Homo sapiens: one gene and its partner. The protein of the gene in region 1 interacts with the protein of each later gene in a pairwise test. Each region holds a gene or a part of one and is shown on either strand. Other genes may lie near its edges.

Region 1 (3,500 bases):
CTAGGGATCATGCAGGGCATGGGGAGACTCCAGCCAAGAGCTGGAAAATTTGGGTCCTTGTTCCGGTCCTGGCATAAAATCCTCTAGAGAGTGCTAAAAATCTACAAATTGGGGACCTGGGGAATCAGAATCTTAGGGTTAGGGCTTAAGACAATTTTTGTTTTGTTTTGTTTTGTTTTGTTTTAAAGCATCATGGGTGAAAACCATTATTTTAGAGATTACATTTATATGGCTAGCTCATGAGTCTGTTTATTTCCTTCTGAGGTTCAAGCCAACACTTTCACTAATAATAGAGAGTAGAGATCTTTTTTTTTTTTTTTTTAGACGGGGTCTCGCTCTATCACCCAGGCTGGAGTGATACTTACTGCAACCTCTACTTCCCAGGCTCAAGCCATCCTCCTGCCTCAGCTTCTCAAGTAGTTGGGACTACAGGCGCACACTACCATGCCTGGCTAATTTTTGTATTTGTAGATACGGGGCTTTGCCATGTTGCCGAGGTTGGTCTTGAACTCCTGAGCTCAAGCAATCCACCCACCTCAGCCTCCCAAAGTGTTGAGATTACAGGCATCAGCCACCATGCCTGGCCTGAGATCTTTTTAAAATTATTTTTTATTTCTAAAGCAAAGAAACTTGACAGCAGAGTTGTATTGACTGAGTTGCACATTGAGCCTAGCCCTAGCCCTTTTAAGGGGCACTATTTGGAACGGCCTGGGCTCCCCAGATCTAAACTTCTCGCTCTTCACCATCCAGTTTTCAAGCCGGTGTGAAGCCCCTGATGCTAACCAGCAGTTACAGCAGGCCATGGAGGAGCGGGCACAGCTGGAAGCACACCTGGGGCAGGTGAGGCTTTGCAGGGGAGGGATGTAGAAGGAAGATGACCCCAGGTGGCCAGGAGTAGGTGACAACCAGTGACAGTCCTTCCTCATTTCTGTGGCCATTCTTGCAGGTAATGGAGTCGGTTAGACAACTACAAATGGAGAGAGATAAATATGCGGAGAATCTCAAAGGAGAGAGCGCCATGTGGCGGCAGAGGATGCAGCAGATGTCAGAGCAGGTGAGACCTGACCCTTCAGCTCCCCCTCAACCTTAGATAGGTCACTTGATCTTTCTGGGCATCTGCGAAATGGGAGGAGCACAGCCAGAGGTGGTCATGGGTCTGGGCTTTGTGGCGGTGGGGGCAGAGGGAGATGGTAGCCTGTCCAGCCACCAGCCCCTCTCCAGGGCCCTTTCTTGCTGTGCTTTGGGCAGGTGCACACATTGAGAGAGGAGAAGGAATGTAGCATGAGTCGGGTACAGGAGCTGGAGACGAGCTTGGCTGAACTGAGGAACCAGATGGGTAAGCTGGGGCTGGGGTGACCTGGGAGCAGGAATGGTGTCAGAGGGTTGTGGGGGTGGTTTAGAATGCCCCAGGGAGTTGGGTGGATGGAATGGCTTTGAGGCAGAGGGAAAGAGGTCTGTGCCAGGAGATGGCAAGTCTCGTCATCTCCATGAGCCTCAGTGCCCCATCAGCAAAGACGAAGGAGTGCCCGTTGTCAGCCACCCACAGTTGTCGCTATCGGAAAGTGGTTTGGAAGATTGGCTAACATCCGGGTGCGAGGAATCATCAGCAGGGAGGCCAAGTTTGGGGAGCTTGAGAGGAGGTATGGACCAAGAGGAGGGTTTTTTTGAGAATCCAGAGGCTTTTATTGTCTGCGTCCTTTCTCAGCTGAACCCCCGCCCCCAGAGCCCCCAGCAGGGCCCTCCGAGGTGGAGCAGCAGCTACAAGCGGAGGCTGAGCACCTGCGGAAGGAGCTGGAGGGTCTGGCAGGACAGCTTCAAGCCCAGGTGCAAGACAATGAGGGCTTGAGTCGCCTGAACCGGGAGCAGGAGGAGAGGCTGCTGGAGCTGGAGCGGGCGGCCGAGCTCTGGGGGGAGCAGGCGGAGGCGCGCAGGCAAATCCTGGAGACCATGCAGAACGACCGCACTACCATCAGCCGCGCACTCTCCCAGAACCGGGAGCTCAAGGAGCAGCTGGCTGAGCTGCAGAGCGGATTTGTAAAGCTGGTGCGCTGCCCCACCTGGAGAGCCCGCCCTCCTCCCTAGCCCTCCAGACCTTTGTTTTCCCACCTGTAAAGTGGGGCAGTGTAGCCCTCACTTGAAATGGTACTTCTGGAGGCATCTGTGAGCCAGAGCCCTGCTCCGATGGCTGTGGGGGAGAGGGGATGATTTTTCTAACCTGCCTCCACCCTTCCCGGTGCCATGGGAGGCAGACACCAAGGCAGCAAGTTCTGGGGTCTCCAGCTGCAGTGGGTGGCCGCTGATTGCTTCTCTCTGTCCAGACTAATGAGAACATGGAGATCACCAGCGCACTGCAGTCGGAGCAGCACGTCAAGAGGGAGCTGGGAAAGAAGCTGGGCGAGCTGCAGGAGAAGCTGAGCGAGCTGAAGGAAACGGTAACCCCGCCCCATCCAAGAAGGGCTGGGAGGCGGGCACCAGCCTCTGGGGAGGGGTGGTGTGAGGCCAGAGGCAGCTCCAGCCTGGGGCACAGGTGACCCCAGCACCCTCCAGGGCAGTCCTGTGACTGTTTCTTGCTCCCTGCCCTCTGACTTTTAGAGGTGGATAGCTTTGGGCTCCTCTCAGGTCTGGACATCATCGTCCCAGCTAGAGGCATGGATTTCTCCCAATCACAGGGGAAGAGACAGCGGCATAAGAGGCTCCTTAGATTCAAACTGGATTCTGGCCTTTGCTCCACTGGTCATCATTCAACTACTTTGCATCTCTAAGCCCCAGTTTCTTTAACTTAAAAAGGAAGTTAGCATCTTCCTTGCAGAGGTGCTGAGGATTCAATGAGATAATACGTGGAAAGCATTAGGCATGTAGCACACTTAGCAGATGGTGGTTGGCTCCCTCTGCGTTTCCACCAGTCTGTGGCCTACGGTTTAAATGGTGGGAAGAAGGATGTGAAATTTGAGGCTGGGGAAGGAGGCACGAGGCTCTAGACAAGGGAGGCAGTCACTTAGGCCTGGAGCAAGGGGCCAGAGGTCTGGGCAGGTGACAGAGCCCTCGCTACCCTATTTATGGGCCCTGAATCTGGAAGCAGGCCACCACCTGCCCTCACGCCCAGGGTCTTCCTACAGGTGGAGCTGAAGAGCCAAGAGGCTCAAAGTCTGCAGCAGCAGCGAGACCAGTACCTGGGACACCTGCAGCAGTATGTGGCCGCCTATCAGCAGCTGACCTCTGAGAAGGAGGTGCTGCATAATCAGCTACTGCTGCAGACCCAGCTCGTGGACCAGCTGCAGCAGCAGGAAGCTCAGGGCAAAGCGGTGGCCGAGATGGCCCGCCAAGAGTTGCAGGAAACCCAGGTGAGGGAGTTGGTGAGGGCAGGGCCCCGAGGGGGACAACCTGGCAACCTCCATGCCTTCTCACTCTCTTTTCTGGCCCCTTAGGAGCGCCTGGAAGCTGCCACCCAGCAGAATCAGCAGCTACGGGCCCAGTTGAGCCTCATGGCTCACCCTGGGGAA
Region 2 (2,730 bases), on another chromosome or scaffold:
GTCTGAATGGCGGCACGCTGAAGGAAACGTGCGAAGCACAGGCTGAAGAGGGGTTTCTAACCTGGGAAAGGTGCTCAAGGAGGACTTGGTTTCAAGGGCCTTGCCCTGCCCCGGTCTGTCCGGTTTGCAGTACTTGCACACATTTTGGAGATTGTATTTTCTAGACAATTCTCTATTTTACTGAAGCTATGCTGGGCAATTCTGGCAATCATTAAAGTGCATAGATTTCTATCTTAAACTAATTTTTGATAATGGAGTTTTTATTTTATGACAAATATTTAGGGATTTTTCTAGTGAGAAACAACTTTGTGTAAGGATGATCCACAGATATGAGTTGCTCCTATATAACTTTGTATTTAAAAATCATGTTATTATCTTTTGTTATTTTTTAAAAACCTTGGGTACTTAATAATGGTTTAGTTGCCAAACTGAAAACTATACTGAGAATCTGTGTTATTTTGAAACATCAAAAGGATTTTTCTATCCAGAACATTTTTTATCCTAAAAATTCTATATAGTTGTACCTTCTGTTTTTCAAATGAGAGCTCAATTCATTTAGATACTGAAATGAGTCAGTTAATGTAAAGTTGAGGATGAAGGCACATTATTTAAAATGTAAGAGAATAAGCATTATTTTTTCAGTATTATTCATAGATCTAAATGAATTTGATTTTATTGGTTGAAAATGAAGTGAAAAACAATTGCCTAGGGTGGTTTTAAGCACTTTTTTGTTAAAAACAAATCTGAGTTTTAATATATGTGTTGCTTTGTAGATGACACAATAACAATGGGCGCTGAGAAGCGTTTTGGGAGAGATTAAGGACTAAGAGTATGTAAGATGACTAGGACAAGAGTAGGTGGAGTGTGATGGTAAATGCAGGATGCCTTCGTCTTTACAAAAATGCAGTATTATCTATACTCAGACTGAGGTGCTGGGATGGCGAGCAGGGGACCCCACAGCACTGTCCCCAGGGAATTCAAGTCCTGTGACCGCCAGTGACTTACTCCGTTTCCTTGGGGCTTTTCCCACCTCAACCTGTATTGTTTCTTTTTCATAAATAAATTCAGCATTATAGTATCATTAAAAGAAGCCTTAAAGAGGCGTATTTTTCCTTTTGGTTGAAGGAAGGGAATAGTTAATAATAGTTTTCACCTCTTCTCCCAAAAAGTACAGTCCAAATTTGTGCACAGAGATTGCTGTGGTATTCAAGAGGTACTTGCATTTTAGCTCCTTAATAATTCCCTGGCCAGTGTTAGCTGTTTAGTGCCCCCTCACCCATCCCATTTAGGCACATCCCAATAGACAGAGCCAGGCTGAGTTACAGGGGGAGAGTGTCATCTCTGGCCCCGATTAAGATGGCCTTGTCACAGTGACCGCTGAGTAGGCATGGATGAGTGGGATATTTAGCTGAGGAACCCTTTCCCTTTTCCTTCTTTTTGGGGTCTCTTCTTACAGTGAACTTCCAAAATGTCAAATCTAGGGCTGTTTCCCAAATTACACTATTCTAGGCATCATTTTGATTCCCATGTCACTCCTTAACTCACTTCCTTGAGCACTACATGTATGTTGTCAGCCACGAGACAGGACTTCCTAAATAGTGTGTGCACCAGCCTAACTCTGCCTTACCCAGAAACCAACCACCTAAGAGGAAAACTCAGAAGATATTAATGAAAACTAATTGAAAGTACGCACACTTCTCATGTAGGAACAAAATTAAAATTTTACATTTTTATTTTACAAAATTAAAAAATTACATTTTGTAGGAACAAAATGTAAATTTTGTAAATACAAAATTCTTTTTAAAGTCCTGTTTAAAGAACAGTAGAACTAAGTGAAAATATTCAGAACGAGCTCCTTAGAAGAAAGGAATAAGAACTTTTTACTGGAACTATTTTCCATCTCTAGAAAAAGTGCTTCTTCCCCTCCCCCTCCCTCTCCATGGTACGTTTTTGTGAAAATGCTTTTCTGTCAGGTTTAAACAAACAGTTTGACATAGCTCGTTGACAAGAACATATTGTAAAACAAATCTAATTAAAGAGTAATATGTGGTCTATTTGTGTTCCTGTTGTAATAATTTGATAAGTAAACTTCTGAGGGCAAAATTACTGTTTAATATTACTCTTAAAATGTTGCATGTTTGGCGTCATTCCTAAGAGCCATGTAATTTTAAACTTTTAATTGCAGTTAGTGAATATGAAAGGATTTCTGAATAAAAATCTATCCACATTACTGAGCTTTGAAATAGTATCATTTTCAAGAGCAAACTAGAACATTAAGGGTTCATAGGTTTACTGCCTCTGAAATGAGTATATTAATGTCTGCCAAACTTACACAATGCTTCATGTATCTTAGTGTCTTTTAATAAGAATTATCAAAATGTGCACTTCCACAAAACGTAGAGTTATAAACCACTGTTTTCCACTGATCAATTTTGGTATCTCTGGTATCAGTTTTCCTGATTAGTGGGGTCTTTTGATGAAATAGTTTAGCTTAGTTGGTAGTTTTGAGCACAGAAAGTACTCATTTTATTTTTTATTTTTGAGACGGAGTCTTGCTCTATTGCCCAGGCTACAGTGCAGTGGCATGATCTCGGCTCACTGCAACCTCTGCCTCCTGGGTTCGAGTGATTCTCCTGCCTCAGCCTCCTGAGTAGCTGGGATTACAGGCATGCACCACTATGCCCGGCTAATTTTTGTATTTTTAGTGGAGACGGGGTTTCACCATGTTGG

Evidence for each region. The genes of interacting proteins can lie anywhere in the genome.
Region 2: the proteins of GOLGA2 (region 1) and PTPN21 interact in binary tests that used the Homo sapiens proteins (3 or more experiments, as listed by UniProt).

Annotation. Positions count from the first base shown.
Region 1 is NC_000009.12:128,259,008-128,262,507, reverse strand, and holds part of GOLGA2 (golgin subfamily A member 2), read left to right. Parts: intron 1-750; coding exon 751-840; intron 841-946; coding exon 947-1,054; intron 1,055-1,248; coding exon 1,249-1,336; intron 1,337-1,705; coding exon 1,706-2,043; intron 2,044-2,318; coding exon 2,319-2,432; intron 2,433-3,116; coding exon 3,117-3,341; intron 3,342-3,425; coding exon 3,426-3,500. UniProt on the Homo sapiens protein: Peripheral membrane component of the cis-Golgi stack that acts as a membrane skeleton that maintains the structure of the Golgi apparatus, and as a vesicle thether that facilitates vesicle fusion to the Golgi membrane.
Region 2 is NC_000014.9:88,465,278-88,468,007, reverse strand, and holds the end of PTPN21 (tyrosine-protein phosphatase non-receptor type 21), read left to right. Parts: 3' UTR 1-2,230; downstream 2,231-2,730.